Regions from separate parts of the Homo sapiens genome. Here all the other regions are reported to be linked to region 2. The links are microRNA targets in miRTarBase. Many come from high-throughput screens and were not tested one by one. Region 2 holds a microRNA gene; each other region holds the end of a gene's coding sequence.

Region 1 (7,069 bases), not on the chromosome of region 2:
AAGGCAGGCCGGGCATGGTGGCTCACGCCTGTAATCCCAGCACTTTGGGAGGCGCCAAGCTGGGTGGATCATCTGAGGGCAGGAGTTCGAGACCAGCCTGGCCAACATGGTGAAACCTTGTCTCTACTAAAAATGCAAAAATTAGCTGGGCGTGGTGGCACACGCCTGTAATCCCAGCTGCTTGGGAGGCTGAGACAGGAGAATCACTTGAACCTGGGAGGCAGAGGTTGCAGTGAGCCGAGATCGTGCCACTGCACTCCAGCCTGGGTGACAGAACGAGACTCCATCTCAAAAAAAAGGAAGAATTAAAGGTAAATTCTTAGGGACAGTTTTTGGCTAACAGGTATATAGGGGAGTGGGGTAATGGTGGTGGCATGGAGGGGAGTGTAGTGCTTACCATGGTTTTCTGTTTGCCTTTAATGGTCCTATTTGCTGTCTTACTATGGGTCTGTCTATATGAATTTAATATACAGTTGGCTTGATTCGTATTGGGGGAAAGAGTTCTTTTGGTTTGACAACTTCTGTTACCGCAACAGCTTTCAAGATGTTAGAAAGTTCAAGCCAGAAGTTTCTTCAGGGTTTGGTCTATCTCATTGGGAACCTGATGGGTTTGGCATTGGCTGTTTACAAGTGCCAGTCCATGGGACTGTTACCTACACATGCATCGGATTGGTTAGCCTTCATTGAGCCCCCTGAGGTAAGGCAAAAGAAAAGCTGAATTTTGGGTAGTTGTAGTATACAGTGAATAGCTGACCTACTTGATGGTAGGAAATTGGAGTTGGTATTTGAGTTTCTTTTTTTTTTTTTTTTTTTTTTTGAGACGGAGTATTGCTCTGTCGCCCAGGCTGGAGTGCAGTGGCATGATCTCGGCAACCTCCGCCTCCTGGGTTCAAGCAATTATTCTGCCTCAGCCTTCCAAGTAGCTGGGATTACAGGCACCTGCCACCATGCCCAGCTAATTTTTTTGTATCTTTTAGTAGAGATGGGGTTTCACCATGTTGGCCAGGCTGGTTTTGAACTCCTGACCTCAAGTGACCTGCCCACCTCTGCCTCCCAAAGTGCTAGGATTACAGGCGTGAGCCACTGCGCCTGGCCTAGGGTTTCTTAAAAAATAAGAGCCATTAGGAGTTTTTAAGTTATTATTTTTAATTAATTAATTAATTTATTTATTTTGAGACAGAGTCTCACTCTGTCGCCCAGGCTGGAGTACAGTGGTGTGATCTTGGCTCACTGCAACCTCCGCCCCCCAGGTTCAAGCGATTCTTGTGCCTGAGCCTCCCTAGTAGCTGGAATTACAGGCAACTGCCACTGCACCTGGCTAATTTTTGTATTTTTAGTAGAGACAGGGTTTCACCATGTTGGCCAGGCTGGTCTTCAGCTCCTGACCTCAGGTGATCCACCCACCTCGGCCTCCCAAAGTGCTGGGATTACAGGTGTGAGCCACCATGCCTGGCCAAGTTATTATTTTTGAAACAGGGTCTTGCTCTGTCACCCAGGCTGGAGTGCAGTCATGTGATCATGGCTCACTGCAGCCTCAACCTCCGGGCTCAGGCACTCAGCCTCTCAAGTAGCTGGGACTACAGGTGTGCACCCCAATGGCTCGCTAATTTTTGTATTTCTTGTAGAGACAGGGTTTTGCCATGTTGCCCAGGCTGGTCTTGAACTCCTGGGCTCAAGCGATCTGCCTGCCTTGGCCTCCCAAAGTGTTTAGCTAAGATTAGCTACTGCGCCTGGCCTGGAAGTTCTTTTTTAAGGATAGGCAAAATAGAGCTTGTGGTTAAAGTATTAAGTAATTGATTCAGGAAGTTATTTTAACACTCATTTGCCACTCACCTATTTATTCTTTCTTTCTTCTTTCAGAGAATGGAGTTCAGTGGTGGAGGACTGCTTTTGTGAACATGAGAAAGCAGCGCCTGGTCCCTATGTATTTGGGTCTTATTTACATCCTTCTTTAAGCCCAGTGGCTCCTCAGCATACTCTTAAACTAATCACTTATGTTAAAAAGAACCAAAAGACTCTTTTCTCCATGGTGGGGTGACAGGTCCTAGAAGGACAATGTGCATATTACGACAAACACAAAGAAACTATACCATAACCCAAGGCTGAAAATAATGTAGAAAACTTTATTTTTGTTTCCAGTACAGAGCAAAACAACAACAAAAAAACATAACTATGTAAACAAGAGAATAACTGCTGCTAAATCAAGAACTGTTGCAGCATCTCCTTTCAATAAATTAAATGGTTGAGAACAATGCATAAAAAAAGTTGCACAAGTTCCTTATTTTCCTTAATATTTCACTTCTATTTAATACAAGCTGGGACATAAAAATTCTGTTGGGGATACCTGGGGGAAGATGTGAGAAACTAATGCTGAATTCAGCTTATACATGATGAAAAGAAAAACCAGACAAAAGGAGCACATAAATATGCATACAGTGTAACTGTTATTATTTTAATACCCACGATAAGGGATTTTTGTTAGCATGTTTAGGGGGAACGAGGATTGGTGGGATCCTTGGGCCACAGGAATCTGAGGCAACGGAAGATATATAGAGTGATCGTCCCCCTGCCGAAGGAACCTGGCACCTGTCAAGCAGATGCTGCAGTTCAAACTTCAGCTTTTAAGATAGATAGCTATTGAAGGCAGAGGGTCAGCAGGAGGATGTGTATTTCTAATCTACCCTGGTAAAGTCATAGGTAAGACTCAAAAGCGGGATCTTATTCAAAAGGCAGGTATTTCCTTTGTTTTCTGTCTTGAAATAGCCCCTTCCCCTAAGGTGCATTCTCTCAAGTTTTCAGTATTGCTTTATTTGCAGTGATTAAAAGAGATGAGAGACTTTGGAGACAGACAACGTAAGCAACACATACACACATGAAATACTCTAGACAGACATGAATATAAATCTGGCCTAATAACCAGTTTTCCATGTAACAGTGATTTTGTGTTTCGGGCTGAAGCAGTGGTTATATTAAAAGCCACTAATTCCCTTATCCCTTTAAAAGATTTTTACAATTCTCCAACCACAAACAGCACTTCTAAAACTAACTTTACTTTCTGCCCATAATTTGTTCTACATGGAAAAAAAAAATATTACTTTGGCCAGGGGTGTGTGTAAATGTGGCAGAATTCCTAGGCAGGCTGACCTTTACAGTATGGGCCTTTAAGATACTGGATCCTGGTTGGGCACAGTGGCTCACGCCTGTAATCCCAGCACTTTGGGAGGCCAAGGCGGGCGGATCACCTGAGGTTGGGAGTTCGAGACCAGCCTGACCAACATCAGTTTCAGTAGAGAAACCCCGTCTCTACTGAAAATACAAAATTAGCTGGGTGTGGTGGCACATGCTTGTAATTCCAGCTACTCGGGAGGCTGAGGCAGGAGAATCGCTTGAACCCAGGAGGCAGAGGTTGCGGTGAGCCAAGATTGTGCCATTTCACTCCAGCCTGGGCAACAAGAGCGAAACTACGTCTCGGAAAAAAAAAAAAAAGATACTGGATCCTGCAGGACATGACTCACTACTGTTAAACTCAACTAAGCAATGGAGTGTTGCAGTGGGAGTTGTAAATAATGCTTCTACCATCTGTAGGAAGTAACAGAAAAAAAGACTTAAGATCCTATCCGCTTTGCCATCCTCAGTGGGCCTGGAGGTTGAAGCAAGCAAAGGGAACAAATCAAAATTACTCAATTTCTTTCTTTCTTTCTTTTTTTTTTTTTTTGAGATGGAGTCTCCCTCTGTCGCCCAGGCTGGAGTGCAGTGGTGCAATCTCGGTTCACTGCAAGTTCCACCTCCCGGGTTCACGCCATTCTCCCGCCTCAGCCTCCCAAGTAGCTGGGACTACAGGCGCCCGCCACCATGCCCGACTAATTTTTTTGTATTTTTGTAGAGACAGGGTTTCACCGTGTTAGCCAGGATGGTCTCAAATCTCCTGACCTCGTGATCCGCCTGCCTCGGCCTCCCAAAGTGCTGGGATTACAGGCGTGAGTCACTGCACCCGGCCCAAAATTACTCAATTTCTTAAGCTATATTGAAGGGTTTTCTCTGTCCTTACAGGTCAAATGAATAATTTGTGACACCTAGGTCAGCTTGCTCCATGTCCTATTTAGTAATCAAAGAAGAGTGGCACTATTTATGACTAATAAATTGAAATTCAAAAACAGCCATGAATACAGGCAAGAAAAGTTTCTCTAAATAACTATTCTGTAAAAGAAATGAAGATTTCACATACTTGAAATTACTGCTCAGCCAGCCACATAAGTAGTTTCCCTATGCTTGTAAGCCAGATGTTTGATCAGTATATTAGTAAATAAAAAGCTGAGCTTACACAAGTATTTCCTTGGCACACTGAACTTTCTTTTTGAAACATATCACTCTGTTACCCAGGCTGGAGTGCAGAGGTGCAATCCTGGCTCACTGCAACCTCCGCCTCCTGGGTTCAAATGATCCTCCTGCCTTAGCCTTCCGTGTTGCTGGGATCACAGGCATGCACCACCATGCCCAGCTAATTTTTGTATTTTTAGTATAGACAGGTTTTCACCATGTTGGCCAGGATGGTCTCGAACTCCTGACCTCAAGTGATTCACCTGCCTTGGCCTCCCAAAGTGCTGGGATTACAGGTGTGAGCCACGGCACCCGGCCTGAAGTTTCTGAAAACAAATTAGAAGACTGTTGGCTTGGCTAATCTCGTAGTTCAGGGCCAAGTTTCTGTAGTCAGAATGAAGAATAAAATTGAAAGAAAAAGGGGGAAATGCTTATACTTGGCATTAAGTTGAATGCCTCAAGTCTTAACTATGGCTTTGTAGATGAGGCAAAAGATTTCTTAGTGGTAAAATTTCTTCAACAGGTCAATGCCAATCTGTATGCCATTTTAGTAAAGTAGGTAAGGAGAGTAGCCGCTCAGTAACGTTGGCACTAAAGAAAGAGTGTGGCTCTAGAACTTCCAATTCCATTGCTAGATGTGCCCTTTAAAAGATGGTCCAGTGCTTTCAGGGAAGGATGTTTAGCCAGTTTTCCTAGTATTTGTTCCTTAAGATTTTTTGACCTGTGCTTAATAAGAGGGCATAAAAAAAGGCGCGGGGGTGGGGGCGGGGGGAGAAGAACCTGTTGATTAATGTGCACCATGACCTGCATTTCTTAGACAACAGCTTGTATGTTTTGTCCATGTTGTATAGAGAACCACAGACTATTTCAGTAAATGTTAATAGCTTCCTTTTGGAGTTCTCTTAGTTCGGCCATTTGAAAGGAACCTGAAAGAAATAATTTTTACCTTACCAAAAACAATTTCCATGGTAACACTGCCTGTGTTACAATGACAGAATGGGTTTTGAGTTAAGAGAAACAAAACAGTTGAAGTATACACTGACACAGTATTTGGATATTTAAATCTGGTATTTTGGGGGGATGTTTTTGAAGAAGTAGAGGCTGCAGCCATGTTTCAAGTTAGTATCCTAATATAAAATTACAGCAGTGGGTATACTAAAGAAATATAGCTAAAAAATGTTTGCATCTTGGCTTGCCGAGGATAATAGGTCCAAATATACTTGACCATAAATTCTTTAGTAAGATGAAGCTGTCTCTAGTTGTTATCCTCACAGTGTCAACATTGAACCATGACTTCTGAGATTCATCTTTAATGCTGAATACGTACTTGACTTGCTTTTTTTCTTCAGTTGAATTTCTAGCATCCCTTTTACCAATTCATTTATTGGCTCAGCTTGTTAATTCTAATTTGCCTTTGACTGCTCAGACGTGGCTTGAAAGACTTGAGCATTGTTCTGATGTTGAGGGAATATTTGCTTTTTCTGTAATGACTGCAGATCAGATGGGAGCTCTTTTACACAGGTACTTGAGGCTCAGCTCATCAAGAGTTCAGTATGATGTGTACAGAACACAGGCTTCTAGTTGAGTGGGAGTGGTAGTAATGAGCTGGCACTTCCATGGAGGACGTAGGCCTTTTAAGAAAACAGGTCAAGCACGGTCATTCAGAGTAGGTTATGAATAAATGGTGATCACTTCACTGCCACCACCCCGGACAAGTAGGACTCGCTCTAGTCCCTCGGTAAGCACCTCTAGGAACTCCATGTCTTCAAAACTTGTCAAGGAGACAGGCAAAAGAAGAGCACAAACTTAAAACCTGGCATCATCATAATCTGAGGTTATCTGATCATAGAGCTACAAAATTAGCTGCTTAATTATTATATATTCAGAAAAGTCTGAACTTTGGATTGAATTTAACCCTGTGAAGTAACCAGAGATCCAGTCCTTTTGCATACATAATACCAGACTCCCATTTGTGTATTTAAAAAATGGGAAAACCTAGAAGTGTTACTCTAAATAAGATAAAAATGATGAAAGAAGAAGAAAAGCCACAATAGGGCAGCTAACAAGATTCCTAGAGAGAACCCAAGTAATTTCTAAGTGAAGCTGCTCAAGTCAGATTTTTCTGCCAGTTCGGTTTGTCTTTTTCTTTTTAAACCTTTTTCTTTTCTTTCTTTTTTTTTTGAGACAGAATTTCCTCTTGTTGCCCAGGCTGGAGTGCAATGGTGCGATCTTGGCTCACTGCAACCTCCACCTCCTGGTTCAAGTGATTCTCCTGCCTCAGCCTCCCGAGTAGCTGGGATTACAGGCACCTGCTACCACACCCAGCTAACTTTTCTATTTTTAGTGGAGACGGGGTTTCACCATGTTGGCCAGGCTGGTCTCGAACTCCTGACCTCAGGTGATCCACCTGCCTTAGCCTCCCAAAGTGCTGGGATTACAGGCATGAGCCACCACACCTGGCCTAAACCTCTTCTTTCTTAATGGTACTGGTGGGAATAAGCTAATTTATGTGTCAATGCTGAAGGGTTTCCCGTATCCCAGGAGTCCTGGGATGAAGGTATGAGGAAGAATCCCTATCTCTTTTTTCCCCTCAGTTAAAGGAGGTTCTATCTCAGCTTCTCCCCTAACTCTATCCAAAAGAAAGGCTTTGCAAAGCGGGTAGAACCTAAAAAGGCGAAAGGATGTGGGTATGCTGTCTGTAGGATTGTCAGGAAGGGTTTTATACACTGAATATTAGATGTCATGTTGCAAA
Region 2 (7,000 bases):
TTCAAGATGCCAATAAGAATTTTACTCTGTTGTGAGTGCTTGTCATTTGTAACTATATTGTTCCCACATCTAACAATCTATCACCCATAAACATGTCAAAGTACTGTGACAAAGTATAACAAATGATTCTCCAATATTTTGAATAGATTTACTTTTAAATAAATGTTACAGATGTATTATGAAATAAGAAATAAGCTTACAAATACATTTATTTTAACATCTTGTGTTGATTATGAGAACAATAAAAATGAGCAATTCACGGGAAAATAATTTCAGATAGATTTTGTCTCCCTACAAATGGGCATCCTGATATTCACTCTGGAATAAATACTTTAGGAAGAAGATGATATTGAGATCATATCCCTTTGTTTGGTAATCAAAGGCTTATTTTTCATGTGGAAAATTTTAAGTGCTAATAAATAATCCACTGCAAACCACATAATTTTTGAAAATAACCCCCAAATTATATACACAAACAAGTAAATTTTAGTGAATGTATGCAATTGCTATTGGCAGTTATTAGATCCTAATTACTTTTCAAAAGTGGAATTAATAATATGTAATTTAATGTCTTACAGGATATTATAAAGATGTAATTTTATTGGACTTTGCTTCTAATACACTGAACCATAAGGCTAAATTTAAAACCACTTAGAAAAGAATATTAGAATTAAATTACAGAGAAATTTACAACTAAATTAAGAAACTCTATCAATTAAAAAACTTTGCTGTCATCCTCAAATGTGAGTGCTTATCTAATAATATGATCCTGGACTAAGTGTTGTGTATACTTCAGATATAAAATTTTCATATAGGCTATTCCTAGGCAAATACAAAAAGTAAACAAAAACAAAACAAAAAATACTGATGACTAGTGATCACATTAAAATAAATGACATCATAAAAGTGACCCTTTTCCCCTTCCACCTCCCACCACATTAGGACAGCAACAGAGCATCAGCTTGGAAGCAAAAGCAGCCCTCACAAGATCACACCTGTCAGTGCCTTGATCTTGAACTCCTGAGCCTCCAGAACTATGAGAAATAAATTTCTGCTCTTTAAAAACCACCCAGTTTCAGCATATACTGAAAATTCAAAACTTGCCATACTTTTAAAATATAGATTGGGACTAGATACAGTCAGAAATTGCCACTCCCACAGAAAGAGACCCAATTTAATATACACCAACATAATTTGAACAAATCTTCAGAGAGAAACTACCAAACATGGATTGAGAAAAGATGCAGTCCCAGAGACTGAAGAAGAAGGAAGTTAGGCACCCAATGTGGGGTGCCTGAATGCTAAGGCTGATTTCCAAACTGGAAAGGTACCTGGGGAAGGGGATTGGTCCAGTAAGGATATGGGTTATTTCCATACCAGACCTCTCCCTAAGGGAGCCCCGTGGCCCCAAAGACCTAATAAAAACAACAACAAAATCGAAGGTACAGTGCTAGTGATTGGATGTGGCTCCCCCAAGCAGACCTGATGAGGGGGTCATCTATTTCCCCCTTGCACTGCAGAACACAGCTGCAAATGTTAACATAGACAAAGGAACCACAAGGCTGAGTAGAAGCCTATCTACTGCCCATTGCTCTCAAGGACCATCTACTAGATTGTAGCCCAAACTACAACACCAAAATCACTTTACTAATCCTGCCCTTGCAAAACCAAGAGTAAGAATTCTGCAACGAAGACACCATACAGAGCCTTAGTTCTCTAAAAACTTTCAGAAACAAAGCCAACAAAGTACACTCAATTTACACCACAATTAAAAGAATACCATCCCTCCCAGATGAGAAAGAATCAGCATAAGAACTCTGGCAATTCAAAAAGCCACACTGCCCCCTTACCTCCAAATGAGCCCACTAGCTCCCCAGAAATGTTTCCTAACCAGTCTGAATTATCTGAAATGACAGACATAGAATTCAAAATATGGATGGCAAAGAAGCTCATTGAGATCAAGAAGAAAGTTGAAACTCAATCCAAGGAAGCCAAGCAATCCAGTAAAATGATTCAAGGGCTGAAAGGTGAAATTCTCACTTAAAGAGAGACAAAAACTTAATTTCTTGAGCTGAAAAATTCACTACAAAAATTACATAATATAATTGGAAGTATTAACAGCAGAATAGACCAAGCTGAGGAAAGAATCTGAGAGCTCAAAGAGCAATTCTTTCAATTAACACAGTCAGACAAAAATACAGAAAAGAGAATTGAGAAAGATGAAGAGCAGAGAGTGGGCCGAGACCTCCAATTAGAAGTAGCTATGGTGCATGGCACTCATAAAGAGGAAGAAAAGCAGTGAGTAAATACAGCACCTTCAACTGAAATATCCAGGTTTTCGCACTGGGACTGATCAGGGAAATAACCAATCCACAGAAAACAGAGAAAAGTAGGGCAGGATGATAGCCCACCTGGAAGTGACGCAAAGCCAAGGGAACCCCCACCCCAGCCAAGGAAGTGGTAAGTGAATGTGCCACCCTGGGAAACCACATTTCTCCCATGGATCTTTGCAACCCTCAGATCAGGAGATCCCCTCATAAACCCACTCCACCAGGACCTTGGGTCAGATACACAGAGCTGTGTGGAGTCTCAGCAGGGCAGCCACTCAGGTATGCACAGAGACCCAGGAGATTTACATACCCCAGCCACAGGATCCCTGGCAAAGGTGACTACAACTCAGTCAAGGCGGGAGGTCCATACATACCCCTAGGAAGGGGGCCGAATCCAGGGAGCTGAACAGCGTCCATCTGTGGGCCCCATTTCCAAGGCACCTCACAAAATAAGACCCACTGGCTTGGAACTTCAGCCAGCCACCAGCAACAGGGTAGTGCCTGCCTGAGATGGAATGGAGCTGCCAGGGAAAGGGGTGGGCTGTCACCTTTGTTATTTGGACAACTCAGCTGTTCAAGTCTGTGGGCTTTGGAGAGTCCAAACAGTCTGGACAAGTAAGGGACCCCCAGCACAGCACAGCACAGCTGCTCTATGAAAATGTGGCCAGACTACTTCTTTAAGTGGGACCCCAATCCATTCCACCCCACTGGGCAGGACTTCCCAATAGGGACCTCCAGCCACCCCTGCCCATATTCTAGGAAAGAACTCTGATCTCTCCCTTGGCTGGAGTGCCCAGTGGGGAGGGATGAGCTGCCAATGTTGCTTTGAGCCCATTCCAGCCTGTAGGCTTTGCAGAATCCAAGCCAATACAGGCAGAGATGGATCCCCAGCAACGCATGGCTGTTTTGTCAAGGTGTGGCCAGACTGCTTCTTTAAATAGAACCCCAATCCATTCCTCCTTGCTGGGCAGGTCCTCCCAACCAGTGCTTCCAACCACCCTCACCCATGTTCTATGGCTGACAAAGTTCTAATTTCTCCCTGTGATGGAGTGCCCAGGGGGCCAGGTGGGCTGCCACCTGTGCTGTTTGGGCATCTCACCCAGTCCAACCTGTGGGCCTTGGAAAGTGCAAAACTATATGGGGGTGAAGGGAAGCCAAACACAGCACAGCTGCTCTACAAAAACGCAGGAAGGCTGCTTCTTTAAGGAGGTCCCTGATCCCATTCCTCCTGACTAGGTGAGACCTCCAAAACAGGGTTTCCAGCCACATCCTATGGGTGCATTCAGGCTGGCAACAGGTCAGTACTTCTCTGGGACAGAGCTCTGAGAGGAAGGGGCAGGCTGCCATCTTTGCTGTTTTGCAGCCTTCACCGGTAATACCTACAGGTACTGAAAAAACTGAGGTGACTAGGGTCTGAAGCAGCCGCCCAGCAAATCATAGCAGCCCTACAGAAAAGTGGTCAGACTGTTCAAAGAAAAAACGAGCAAAACAACAAGAACAACAACAACAAAAACCCATCCAAAGGTCAACAACCTCAAAGATCAAAGGTAGATAAGCCAACAAAGATGAGAAAGAATCAGCACAAAAACACAGAAAACTCAAAAATCCAGTGTGCTCCCTTTCCTCTAAATGACCACAACACCTCTCCAGCAGGGATTTAGAACTGGACTGAGGCTGAGATGGCTGAGATGATAGAAATAGGATTCCAAATGTGGATCTAAAAAATGAACTTCACTGAGCTAAAGGAGCACTTTGCAACTCAATGCAAGGAAGCTAAGAATCATGATAAAACAATGCAGGAGCTGACAGCCAAAATAGCCAGTATAGAGAGGAATATAACCAACCTGATAGAGCTGAAAAAAACACAACAAGAACTTCACGATGCAATCACAAGTATTAATAGCAGAATAGGCCAAGCAGAAGAAAGAATCTCAGAGCTTGAAGAATGTCATTCTGAAATAACACAGGCAGACAAAAATAGAGAAAAACAATGAAAAGGAATAAACAAAACCTCCAAGAAATATGGGATTATGTAAAGAGACTGAATCTATGACTGATTGGGGTACCTGAAAAAGATGAGGAGAATGGGACCATTTTGGATAACATAATTCAGGATATCATCCAGGAGAACTTCCCTGACCTACCTACAGAAGCCAACATTCAAATTCAGAAAATGCAGAGAACCCCAGTAAGATACTTACTCCACAAGAAGATCGTCCCCAAAACATGTAATCATCAGATCCTCCAAGGTCAAAATGAAATAAAAAATGTCAAAGGCCACTGGAAAGAAAGGCGAGGCCACCTACAAAGGGAAGCCCATTGGACTAACAGTGGACCTCTCAGCAGAAACCATGCAAGCCAGAAGAGATTGGGGGACAATATTCAACATTTTTAAAGAAAAGAAATTCCAATGCAGAATTACATATCTAGCCAAACTAAGCTTCATAAGAGAAGAAATAAGATCCTTTTCAGACAAGCAAATTCTGAGGGAATTTGTTACCACCAGACCTGCTTTATAAAAGCTCCTGAAGGAAGCACTAAATATAAAAAGGGAAAACTGTTGCCAGCCTCTACAAAAATACACTGAAGTATACAGACCAGTGACATTATAAAGCAACTACATAAACAAGTCTGCAAAATAACCAGCTAGCATCATGATCACAGGATCAAATCCATACATAACAGTATTAACCTTAAATGCTCCAATTAAAAGACACAGAGTAAAAAGCTGGATAAAGAACCAAGACCCACTGGTAAGCTGTCTTCAAGAGACCCATCTCACACGCAAAAACATACACAGGCTAAAAATAAAGGGATGGAGGAAAATTTACCAACCAAATAGAAAACAGAAAAAAGCAGGGATTGCAATCCTAGCATCTAACAAAAAAAGACTTTAAACCAAAAAATATCAAAAAAGACAAAGAAGAGTATTACATAATGATAAAGGGTTCAATTCAACAAGAATAGCTAACTGTCCTAAATATATGTGCACCCAAAACAGGAACACCCAGATTCATAAAGCAAGTTCTTAGAGACCTTCAAAGAGACTTAGACTCCCACACAATAATAGTGGGAGACTTTAAAACCCCATTGACAATATTTTCTAATATCTCTATCATCAAGACAGAAAATTAACAAAAATATTCAGGACCTGAACTCAACTCTGGATCAAGTGGAACTGACAGATATCTATAGAACTCTACACCCCAGAACAACAGAATATACATTCTTCTCATTGCCACACATCACTTACTCTAAAATTGGTCACATAATCAGAAGTAAAACACTCCTCAGCAAATGTAAAAGAACTGAAATCATAATGAACAATCTCTCAGACCACAGTGCAATCAAATTAGAAATCAAGATTAAGAAATGCATTCAAACCCACATAATATGGTTTGGCTGTGCTCCCACCAAAATCTCCTCTTGAATTGTACTTCCCAAAATCTCCACCTCTCATGGGAGGAACCTGGTGGGAAGTAATCAGAACATGGGGGCAGTTTCCTCCATGCTGTTCTCATAATAGTGAGTGAGTTCTCAGGAGAGCTGATGGTTTTATAAGAATCTGACATTTCCCCTGCTGGTACTTCTCTCTCCTGCCACCTTGTGAAAAAGAACATGCTTGCTTCCCCTTCTGCCATGACTATAAGTTTCCTGAGGCCTCCCCAGCCATGTGGAACTGTGAGTCAATTAAACCTCTTTTCTCTACAAATTACCCAGCCTGGGGTATTTCATCATAGCAGCATGAAAACAAATTAATACCCCACAAAATTACATGGAAATTGAATAACCTGTTCCTGAACAACTGTTGGATAAATAATAAAATTAAGGCAGAAATCTTGAAATTAATGAGAACAAAAATACAACATACCAAAATCTCTGGAACCCAGTTAATGCAGTGTTAAGAGGGAAACTTACAGCACTAAATTCCCACATCAAAATGTTAAAAAGATCTGAAATTAACAACCTAACATCACAACTAAAAGAACTAGGAAACCAAGAGTGAACAAATAACAAAGCTAGCTGAAGACAATAAATAACCAAAAGCAGAGCTAAACTAAAGGAGATAGAAACATGAAAAACCTTTCAAAAGATCAAAAATCCAGAAGCTAATTTTCTGAAAAAAAGTTAATAAAATAGACTGCTAACTAGACTAATAAAAAAGAAAAGAGAGAAAATTCAAATAAACACAATCAGAAATGACATGGAGGATATTACCACTGACCCACAGAAATAAAAACGACCATGAGAGAATGTTATGAACACCTCTATGCACACAAATTGAAAATCTAGAAGAAATGGACAAATCCCTGGACACATACACCCTCCCAAGACTGAACCAGAAAGAAACTGAGTCCCTGAACAGATCAACAACAAGCTCTGAAATCAAATCAGTAATGAATAGCCTATCAACCAAAAAAAGCCCATAACCAGATGGATTCACCGCTTAACTCTACCAGAGGTACAAAGAAGAGCTGGTACCATTCCTATTGAAACTATTCCAAACAATTGAAAAGCAGGGACTCCCCCATAACCCATTCTATGAGGCCAGCATCATCCTGATACTAACACCTGGCAGAGATATAACAAAAAAGAAAACTTCGGGCCAATATCCTTGATAAACATTGATACCAAAAATCCTCAACAAAATACTGGCAAACTGAATCTAG
Region 3 (10,795 bases), not on the chromosome of region 2:
CACTATATTCTCTTTTGTTGTTGCTGTCATTCCAAGATCCTATCCAGGATTCTGTGTCATTTAGCTGTTATATTCCACTGTGTTTTGAGTTCCTTTTCCAAGTTTTGTTTTTGTTTTTTTGAGACAGAGTTGCACTTTGTCACCCAGGCTGGAGTGCAGTGGCGCGATCTCGGCTCACTGCAACTTCTGCCTCCTGGGTTAAAGCAATTCTCCTGCCTCAGCCTCCCGAGTAGCTGGGATTACAGGCGCCCGCCACCATGCCTGGCTGATTTTTTTTTGGTATTTTTATTAGAGATGGGGTTTTGCCATGTTGGCCAGGCTGGTCTTGAACTCCTGGCCTCAAGTGATCCACCCACCTCGGCCTCCCAAAGTGCTGGAATTAAGGCGTGAGAAACAGCGCCCATCCCCTTTTCTAAGTTTCAAGGGGATCTTGTTTTCTTGGGTTGTGTAAACAACTCCAGGGTTATCCTATTACCTTTCAAGACTGTGTGGACTTTGGTCTTCTCATCTTTCTAAATTGTGAGGCACTAATCTTTTAATTCCAAACTGAATTTGCTCTTAGTGGATTCATCCATTTGCTAAGTGGGTAGCAGTCAAACTACACTGAGTAGAAAGGATTGGCACAGGCAAAAACGAGTGAAAACAAGTCTGCAAATTCCACACACTGAATAGAATACCTTCAACTTAATTTCTTGGACAATGAAAGTGAGGCAGGAAAATGGGGTCTGGAGTAGGGGACATAAGGCCGAGCCACAGTTCAGCTATGACAGGAAACATCCTCTCCATAGGGTGTACGTCGAGTAAATGACTGTGTGACTTTACTTAAACCTCTTCATTTACATAGGGCGTACACCAAGTAACCAATGGAAACCCCTAGAGGGTATTTAAACCCCCACAAATTCTGTAACCGGGCCCTTGAGCCCCTATGCTCAGGCCTGCTCCCACACTGTGGAGTGTATTTTCATTTTCAATAAATTCCTTCATTCTTTCCTTGCTTTGTGTGTTTTGTCCAACTCTTTGTTCAAGACGCCAAGAACCTGGACACCCTCCACCAGTAACAAAAGTACTGGGTGTTCTCACCAGAGACACAAAATTAGAGAACAGAAAGATCATCTCATCCAATGTTTCATGTTTTACAAACGAGAAAACTATCATGTTGCAAAGGAAATCAACAGAAAATATCACTTTGACACCAATTCATAGCATTTATTGACATTTCCATTTAAAATGCTAGGAAAGCTGTATAAATTGTAAACATGGAAACCAAATACTTGCATAAATTATTTCAAAAACTCTACAGCACATTAGAAAACAGTGCAGCTATTGAAGGATAGAAACATAAAACCGACAAATAGAAGGGAGGGGCCGATTATTAAATCGTATACCCATACTGAGATTTCAGTGCCTGTTTGAGGACCAGCAAACCATGATTGTCAAGTTTAAGTTGCAGTATTGATGCCACAGTTGGCCTCAATTTGCTCTGCACATTTCGTACATTAACGCTCATAATCTAGGGATGAGTGTGCAGGAAGAGCCAGAAAAACATGGACCTTGACAAAGGAGGGAGAGACAAGTCAGTACTCCAGGGCAGCTCTGCCGAGCAACCTTTCCTATTAACGCTAGCCAGACTCCCTGCGTCCCAGAGATGCTCCGGAGGAGGGCAAAGTCGAGGGCGTTCCCACTCCCCTTTTCTGAAACAAGTCCTCTGGTGCTTAGAGCAACTGAATGAATGGGTGGAGCCTCAGTTCCTCTAGTATCTCCCTCTTCTTTCCCCACATTTGCAGGAGGAACAGTACAGCATATGCGACTTGAACTTGGCCCTGTACTATTCCCAACTTGTACACTTAGGGAGTCAAGTTATGAATACTTGAAATCTGGTAAGTACAGGAAAGACTATTCGTGATGCTCCAAGTAGCCCAGAAAGGTTCTGTGTAATCAGGGACTGCAAGAGACTCAAGTCACTCAAAATTTCACCTCTGTCCCTTTTACCTATTCCTTTTTTTTTTTTTTTTTTTTCCAGAGACAGGACCTCACCCTGCAGCCCAGGCTGGAGTGCAGTGGCGTGATTATAGCTCACTGCAGCCTCCAACTCATTGGCTCAAGCGATCCTCCAGTCTTAGCCTTTCGAGTAGCTGGGACTACTGGCACATGCCACCATGCTCAGCTAATTTTTAAATTTTTTTTGTAGAGACGGGGTCTCGTTATGTTGCCCAAGGTGGTCTCAAACTCCTGGCCTCAAGCGATCCTCCTGCCTCAGCCTCCCAAAGCGTTGAGATTAGAGGCTTGAGCCACCATGCCCAGCCTATTCACTCTTTCTTTAGAAATGTGAAGTGACCCCTGAAAAACCTGGAGGAAGAAGGAAAAGGAAGGATCCTGGATAATTATCTACCCTGTGGGAAGCCATTTTAACTATACTGCATTAAGACATTCATTGCTTCTGTCACTTTCTTACTGGCTCCTAACTTTGTTTCATGTTTCCAAAGGCATTTAATATTCTTTTCCTAAATTTCAATGCTGCTGTGTTTTAAGATAAATTATCAAGCCTACTGTCACACACACAAGCATGGACTTAGCAATGTACCATGATGTTGCGATTTCCAAGTCATCTTCATAGTGGAGAAAGTAGTCCTGTTTAAACACTGACAATCACCTCCACGAATATCAAAAGAAACCCGAAATGCACATCCTCCTTGTTCATTAGGTAACAAGTGTTAAGTCTATCATAGTTGATGAGTATGTTACAGCAGCTGCTCATAGAAACCCTGTTAGAACGTGTTAACATGTTAGATTAAATGTAAAAATGAAGTTCAGTTGACTATGCCATAGAAATGTGTTTTGTGTTCACATGCTCTGTCTGCCGGTACAGAAGTGGACTTCCTCCTGCTCCTGTCCAGGGCAAATGTGGATAAGCAGGCTCTAGTACTGGCGCTGGCACCTTGCTCCGGAGGTAGAAATGACCACGGTGAAAACTCCACTTGAGCTAAAGTTAGCGTGGGAGTTAAGACCGGAGTCCTCCTTCCCCTGTGCCCAAAACGTTACCCAGCTTTCCTTCCAAACGACAAATTCATTCATGTCTGAGAATCTAGTGTGAAAGGGATGAGAGAGACTTATATAACAACTAATTTGTGAATTACTGCCAATGCACTGCAAATCAGTGTCCGAATGACTGGCTTGGTCACTGGAACACTTAGAAAAAAGTTGTGCGAAAGAAGGAACGCTGAACCTGTCCACGGGAAACGGGAGACTCCTATAGCACAGAACCGCGTGCTGGCTTTAGCCCAAAGCCTTTAGCGCCTACCTTCACCCGTGCTTTGCCTCACAGTCCGCATGCCAGGAAAGATCTGGCCGGCAAACACCCACTGCTTAAAAGTCATCTGCCACCCAAATCAAAACACTATGAAATTAATAAAATTTGGAGAAAAATGTGTAGGTAGCAGTAAAGAAGCTGAATATATATATAGATAGATAGACAGATACATAGACAGACAGACAGATAGATAACCCACTATGCTCCACAAAGGATATGGCGTGGCCAAACGGCTGCTTGAGATCTGCTCTAAACAATGACCTCAGTGTCATTCTCATCATTTTCGTCCTCTTCCCTTGCCTCCCCCACACTGGAGTACTTCCTCTGTAGATCTTCACAGCCCTGGTCGTTTCCTTGCTGCATGACTGCAAAAGCATCCTTCCAGCACCTCTTCCTTCTCTTCTGAAACTCCCTCAATAGTGCAGTCGGGGATTCTGTCCCCATATCAAAGCAGATCAAGATCAAGTTCATTTCAGTGACAGCTTCACTCCTTCCCTACAGCCTTTCCCAGGCCCACTCTCAGCTCTTCCTTCCACGCCATTTGCCTGGGTAGCTGCCCTGCCTTCAAAGTCACTTCAGAAGTTGACGTCTCCCCAAGATATTGCATTTCCAAACATGCAACTTCTTCTGGGTGCCTAATTCATTTATGTCTTTTGAACAAATTTTTTTCTTTTTGAGACACAGTCTTGCTCTGTCGCCCAGGTTGGAGTACAGTGGTGCAATCTCAGCTCACTGCAACCTCCACCCCCCGGGTTCAAGCAATTATCGTGCCTCAGCTGGGACTACAGGCATGCGCCACCACACCCAGCTAGTTTTTGTATTTTTTTGTAGAGACGGGGTTTTGCCATGTTGCCTGGGCTGGTTTTAAGCTCTTGATCTCAAGTGATCCACCTGCCTCAGCCTCCCAAAATGCTGGGATTACAGGCGTGAGCCACCGCGCCTGATCTCTTCGAATGAATTTTATTGACACTTAAACCATGTTATTTATCGGTATCTTCCATCTTCTATACCCACTCGTGCTATCTTAGATTCTAAAATCTCAGAAGGCAAGGCTCATGTCTGCTGGGTTATTTGGTGCCAGAGACACCAGAAAGTCGGGAGCAGAAAGATGCTTAATAAATGCAATCGGAAAATTGGTGAAGGAAGTGAAATTAAAGCAAAATGGGAGTGAGGAAACTGAGTCACACCGAGCTTTCGGTTTTGCTCATTACCCATGTGTGAACCCATTCACCGCAGTAGTGCAGCGTTTCACATCACTCATCCTAGGGCGTCCACATAGACAGCATGCTACATTTTCACAGTGCTTTATGCTCCCTCCTCACAGGACATCTGCACACATGATCACATCTGATTCTCACAACTACGGTGCCTGGGAGGTGGCGGGGGAGGTCTGTTCTTGTTTGGCTTATGGGGAGAATGAAGTTCAGAGAAGGAACCAGACATGGTCAGTGAGTGACAAAGTAGTCTCTGAAAAAAAAAAAAACAACATTTCTCCAAACATTCTGACTCAAATTTACAGTTTGTGTTACCACTAGAACTTTTAAAATAGGAAAAAAGAATAGACATAAAATTCAACTGTTCATTGTAGAGTGCTTCCATAAACGGACTCCAAAGCCACACGCTGTCAACGCAAGGACCCTTCCTTTCAGTGGATGACGTGAACTTAATGTCTGAAGACCGCTAGGGTACGGTGCTGCTCACACAGCTAGTTTTTTCTGAGTTTGGTGACTGGCAAAACTGTTGTGGCAGGCGTCGAGAGGAAGCAAGTACAAACTGTGTGTGCTTTATGACCACCAGCAGAGGGCTGGTGATCCGGGGGCCTGCTCACACCACACCATAACCACCGGCTGTTTATTATACATCATCTTTGGTCTTGACATCTGTTTAAAGGTGTATTGTTTCTAAGAATAAAAATACAGTTAAAATCCCTTTATGGTAGTTTGAAAGACATCAAAATTGCTTTTACGGTCAGCCCAATTTGAAACAGAACCCTCTTTCTGCAATGCTCAAAGGAGGTTACCATTTTTAGCACACTCTATGTGCAAGCCTGTATGGCCCTGAGCGGAACTGGGTGAGAAGGGGCCATTTATCCCGTTTGCTGTCACACGATTTGAATTCATTACAAGGTGTCCATAATAAAATTCTGCTTGGATATCTGAAATTCTTAATAACATATTCAGGAAACCTGGTATTTTTGAGTGACATACAAAGATAATCGTTCAATTTGGGAGGAGTCGGGTATTAAACCAAGACCAAGAGAAATTTGGTATTAAACCAAAACCAAGACATCAAGCCCAGAAAGGGGCATTCTCTCCAATGCTCCTTGGAGCCTCTGAGGATCGCCTGATAAGATGCTGCTGGTCCTTTGTTGAACGTCCTTGAGAGACTTACTCTCCTGCACTCCTTCTCTTTCAGAGGTGCCCAGATGAAAACTGGCTACATCTTACCTTCCCAGAACCAACTTCCCTCATATTGTAAGACTCTAAATCTGTACAACAGGCTTCATTAATGAAGGGCTAAAACATGGTTTTGAAATCCAGTGATTACACTTTGGAAACCTGTTTTAGCTGTTTCAGGGGTCTTAAAACTTGACACAGATACACAGGTTTTGATCAGTCAGAGCCCCAAATTCTATAGCCCCTTATCTGTTATTTAATGAAAAGTACAGTCATGCACACATCAGGATGTTTTGGTCAATGACGGTCTACATATTGATGGTAGTCCCATAAGATTATAAAATTGTATTTTTACCATACCTTTTCTATGTTTAGCTATGTTTAGATACACAAATACTTACCATTGTGTTCAGTACAGTAACATGCTGTACAGGTTTGTAGCCTAAGAGGAATAGGCCATGCCACACAGCCCAGGTGTGTAGTAGGCTATACCATGTAGGTTGTGTAAGTACAATCTAGGATGTTGGCACAGCAACAAAACAGCCTAATGACACATTTCTCAGAATGCATCCCCATCATTAAGCGATGCATGACTGTCTTCGCTGATCTAATAAAAACAGGTTAATAGTGAAAATCTCTTAGCTAAGCCTGCTTTTCTTCTGAGTTTCACTCAGGTACCAGAAAACAGAACAGCCCTTGCCACTGTTTTCTTTACCATTATTTGGAAAGTGGGGGAAATGTTTACATCAGGAGTACATCTTAAGCGAGATGATCCCCTCTTAGCCCAAAGAGCATAAGACAATTTTAATAGCCACTCGACAGAGTAACAGCACAATAAAATCAGAAATGAGAAGCAACTCTCTCCTTTCCCTTGGGGTCTCAAAGCTCTTTTACATTTCTTGATTCATTACAGAGAGGCTGAACTGAACTCAATTTCATTTCCAGGCTCTGAACACAGGGAATGTGACTGGTAGGGATGTATGTATAACAATTTCGTGGTGCTGGGAATTATTAAATAACTTCTGCTTACAGAAGATTTCTCATTCAGACATAATTTGTGAACAAATCAACAGCAAAGTGGAAGAAAGGATCAGTTAGGACCTCTTGAAAGCCGCATTCTACAGGATCGGCCTTAGCGATCGGTGCTGAACTGGGACATGACCAGGAGTTGTGTGTGCCCAATTAAGAAACAGCAAATACAATGAAGAATGTAGATCTAAACTTTGATCTGTATTTTGGATAATCAAATAAATATAAAGCTTTTTGCCCCACTTTGGGAGGGATTTTTTTTTTCTAGAACAAAATGAAACCTTCAACATATTCTTCCACTGAAAAAGCCAAAGTTCCATTTCAGACATGAAGGTGAAGGGCCCTTGGAGCTGTAGCACCAGAAGAAGGAGGAAGAATGCGGGTGATGGCTTTGTTTGGAGTCATCAGGCTCTACAACCTATCATTTGGTTTCTCACTAGTAGCTTTTTAAAATTCCCAAACAGTCTTAGTATTCTTGTTGTTAATGTTACTATTAAAATAAGTTCCTATGGAGTAAAAGAGAAAAATTAAGCTGTTAATAAAATGTCTTCAAACCTCTTCTCAGAAAACAAAGCAGCAGGTTCATCGTACACGTACCAGTCTCAATCCCACAGAAACGCTTGGTTCCTTTCATCCCTATGCTGTCTATACAGTTTAATCTCTACCTTTAAAAAAGAGACGAATGCAGTCATTTTGTTAGCTTAGGTTTGTGTTTTGTTTTTGTGAAGTGCTGCTGGCTTTTGGCCAAAATACATATATTTCAACTGAACCCAAGTGTTCAGACAATTGCCAGCCCAGTGAAAGGCTCATGAGCTGTCACACGACGTATGGCATCTTCTAAATTGCAACTTGCTCCCTCCCTTGGGCAGGCTGCCCGAGAGTTGCTCCTTCCTCTTCCAAACACCCACTCAGTTGATTTCCTTTTGGTCTTGCTTCCACAGGAAGCGGATACTTGGCAAATCTGCGAGGCGAGGCCGATCAGCTGTGGAAGTTCTGCACGGTGCTCTGTTTCTGGGAGAGCCGGAGGAGCTCCTCGCGGATTGCTTTGATGAGAGAGGCCGAGGAGTGGCCAGGCTGGAGGTCTTCCGTGGAGCTGGTGGGGTAACCCAGCCCAGGGCCCTGCAGTCCCCGGTGGGGGAGGTTCCCGGAAGGAGCTGAGGGCTCCCTGCCTGAAGTCCTTGGCACCTGAAATAGCGGTGAAGAAGAATACTCTTGATGTCCGAGCATGTGTGTCTGAAAAACATGGCAAACGTCACTGTACTTCCTACGAAGAATAAGCCGAAACATCAAATGCAAACTGGCTTTAGGAAGGTTCCCAGGACTGCCCACGTCCATCCACCAACTCAGCCCTCTAACAGGGCCCTGCTGCCTATGCTGCAGGTGAGGCGTGAAGACACCAGGGGGCTGGGGAGAACAGAAGGGAGGGAGGCTGGAGTGCCCCATGATGTGAAAGGTCGGGTGATATCTGAGAGCTGAAGGAGGTTAAGCGGATCCATGCCAGGCTGACAAGGGGAACAGGTGCCTCTGCCCTGGACTGGAGCCTACGCAACCATCTTCTGCTTTATCTAGCTGCTGTCTGTCTCCTGTCTCTGCGTGAGTGTGTGTCTACTGAGGGCTCTGTAGAGCCTTGTCTTTAAAAACTTATCTGCACTAAAGCATAAAATAGTTTTGCTGATATTTGCCGCATAGAGATTAATTTGGCAGGAGTTTCACAAGAATTATTACACTTTTCAGATTTTTTTTTCATGTTTATTTCTCTCCCAGTGGAAATAAATGTCTCTTTGCATTTATATGTAAGAGTACTTAAATCTGCGTACTAAAAACCATGTTAGGGCTAAGTTATTTGTGAGCCAAACATGACATTCCAGCTCTAGGTTCTTTCTACGTTTCACTTCTCCAAATAGTGACCGAGCAGTGTTCCAAAGTGGATGTGACAGGAAAACCTTAACACACCATGCCAGGCACGGTGTCTCATACTTGTAACCCCAATCCTTTGGGAGGCCAAGGAGAGAGGATTGCTTGAGGCCAGGAGTTCAAGACCAGCCTGGCCAACATAGTGAGACCTTGCCTCCATTTTTTCAAAAAAACAAAACACCAAAACCAACCCCAAACACCTCATGAAGCTAAGCTGGGCAAAATGAAGGCAAAAAAAGAGAAATGGCAGCAAACTTAAAGCAGATACCTGAGACTCTAAGTATAACAATGTCTCTTTTAGGGAAGCACCTTATTCTAAAGTTAATGTCTTTTTACTAGGTAAGAGCATCCAGCCATGAAAGGAATTGAGTGTGTCTGTTGGGAAGGCACAGAAATGCAACAGACACTGTAGCATAACGATAAGGAGAAAACAAAAAGTAATATTCTGGGTGGTTATTTTCAAACTTCATGAATTTATCCCCCCAAGATATACAGTTCTTGAGAAAAGCAAATGAAAGCACTTGTAGGAATTACCGATGCTCATATTGAGTGAACAGAAGTCTCAAAAAGAAAACCTGTGCCTTAAAATGTCCCCAACTGTGTGCTTATTACAAAATTACCTACACATGGTCATAATACAAATGACATTAACAAACCCACAGTGAAACACAAATGCTGTGGAAGAGCATGAATATTTATACAGCAATCCCGCCAAACATGAACTCCAGAGTTGTCACCTATAGATTCGAATTTACTACTGAAAGCTTGAACTCTGCCTCAAGAAAAATTATATACTTCCTAAAAGCTAGATGCTAAAAACTGTAAGCCAAAACACCAGGAGGCAGGAAAATGTGAGAGAGATTAAAACTTTTTTAAATGTAGGTTTTAAAAAGGGACCCCCCCCAAAGCAGAAGCTGCTAAATTGAGGGATTATGTCTTTTTTTTTTTTTTTTTTTTTTTTTTTTTGAGACAGTCTCACTCTGTCACCCAGGCTGGAGTGCAGTGGCACGATCTCGGCTTAGTGCAACCTCCATCTCCCGGGTTCAAGTGATTCTCTTGCCTCAGCCTCCCAAGTAGCTGGGACTACCAGCACCCGTCACCACGCCTGGCTAATTTTTTTTTGTATTTTTAGTAGAGACGGGATTTCACTACATTGGCCAGGCTGGTCTCAAACTCCTGACTTCGTGATCCGCCCGCCTCGGCCTCCCAAAGTGCTGGGATTACAGGTGTGAGCCACCGCACCTGGCCTATGTCTAAATTTTAAATGATGACCCAAACAGGAGATACTCACGGCCTCTCTTCGCCCCGCTTCGTCCTCCCCGTACGAAGGCCAGCCTGGCCCCCCATACTGGCTGCCTCTGCTTGGCGGGATTTCCACTGGCTGAGCTCCAATTCTGCTGGCAATCCCCACCTGTGTCAGGTGCTGGATCTGGGAGCCTGGAAGGAACATGGTGGAGTGGCCTGGTCAACATTTATAGGAGAGTATGGCTGCTGAGGATGGCTGCCGAGGAAGACACTGTCAACTCTGACCACTACACTCCTTAATGACAAGGGATCAGGACTTGGTACCAGTTCTATCTCCAGAAATCTCACCTCAACTGCCATACTGTCAGCATTTCCTGAGGGTCCCATAGGTAAGGAAATGCACCACGAAGCGGTAGGAAAATGTACCACGAAGCACCGTGGACCAAGCAATAAAAATAAACAAATAAAAGAAGAAAATCCCATTGCAAAAAAAGTCTGAAACAGAATTCTTGACCCCGTGACATTCATCCCTAAGCCTAAGTCTGTCCCCCATTTCGCCCTCCCCATTTCCACCCAGGGCTGTGCAGCCCTACTTGCTCAGATCTAAAAACCTACACCCTATGCGCCACTCCTCTTTCCTGCGCACTTCTACCAGCCCATCAGAAAGCCCACGGGCTCCTCTCCTGAAACACTGTGTGAGGGTGACCCCTCCTCCCTGTGAGCACCACAACAGCCCCAGTGGAACCACAATCCCACCCCTGATGCAACTGTTTTGGAAACACCCTGTCAGAAGACACTGTCAGCTCTGATCACTGCACTCCTTAAGGACAAGGGATCATGACTTGGTACCAGTTCTATCTCCAGAAATGGCATTTCCTAAGAGCAACAGACCATAAGCTTCTTG

What was found. Region 2 holds the annotated microRNA hsa-miR-7151-3p (CUACAGGCUGGAAUGGGCUCA, at 3,157-3,177, opposite strand). A microRNA usually pairs through its seed, bases 2 to 8, with sites in the 3' UTR of a target mRNA and lowers its output. Matches are read on the target gene's strand: a 7mer-m8 pairs with bases 2 to 8, a 7mer-A1 pairs with bases 2 to 7 and ends in A, and an 8mer does both.
Region 1: miRTarBase lists SLC12A6 as a target of hsa-miR-7151-3p. Seed matches in the 3' UTR shown: 7mer-A1 at 4,608-4,614, 7mer-m8 at 4,165-4,171, 7mer-A1 at 4,045-4,051, 8mer at 3,970-3,977 and 7mer-m8 at 3,836-3,842.
Region 3: the mRNA of KIAA1549 is a reported target of hsa-miR-7151-3p. Seed matches in the 3' UTR shown: 8mer at 4,226-4,233 and 7mer-m8 at 4,091-4,097.

The regions. Positions count from the first base shown.
Region 1 is chr15:34,227,893-34,234,961 of GRCh38, forward strand. It overlaps SLC12A6 (solute carrier family 12 member 6), which reads right to left. Exons shown (of 26, transcript NM_001365088.1): 26 at 1,892-6,080. The coding sequence ends at 5,989. EMC4 (ER membrane protein complex subunit 4) reads left to right here. Exons shown (of 5, transcript NM_016454.4): 4 at 537-697; 5 at 1,861-2,264. The coding sequence ends at 1,896. Among named protein-coding and RNA genes, the nearest start is that of EMC4, 6.4 kb to the left of the region's middle.
Region 2 is chr10:67,400,195-67,407,194 of GRCh38, forward strand. It overlaps MIR7151 (microRNA 7151), which reads right to left and starts at 3,216; the gene lies at 3,157-3,216. All of the region lies in intron 5 of CTNNA3 (catenin alpha 3), which reads right to left.
Region 3 is chr7:138,830,196-138,840,990 of GRCh38, forward strand. KIAA1549 reads right to left here. Exons shown (of 20, transcript NM_001164665.2): 19 at 9,938-10,083; 20 at 1,186-7,965. The coding sequence ends at 7,711. Among named protein-coding and RNA genes, the nearest start is that of ATP6V0A4, 37 kb to the left of the region's middle. RefSeq lists an enhancer at 189-688 and a silencer at 1,769-2,063.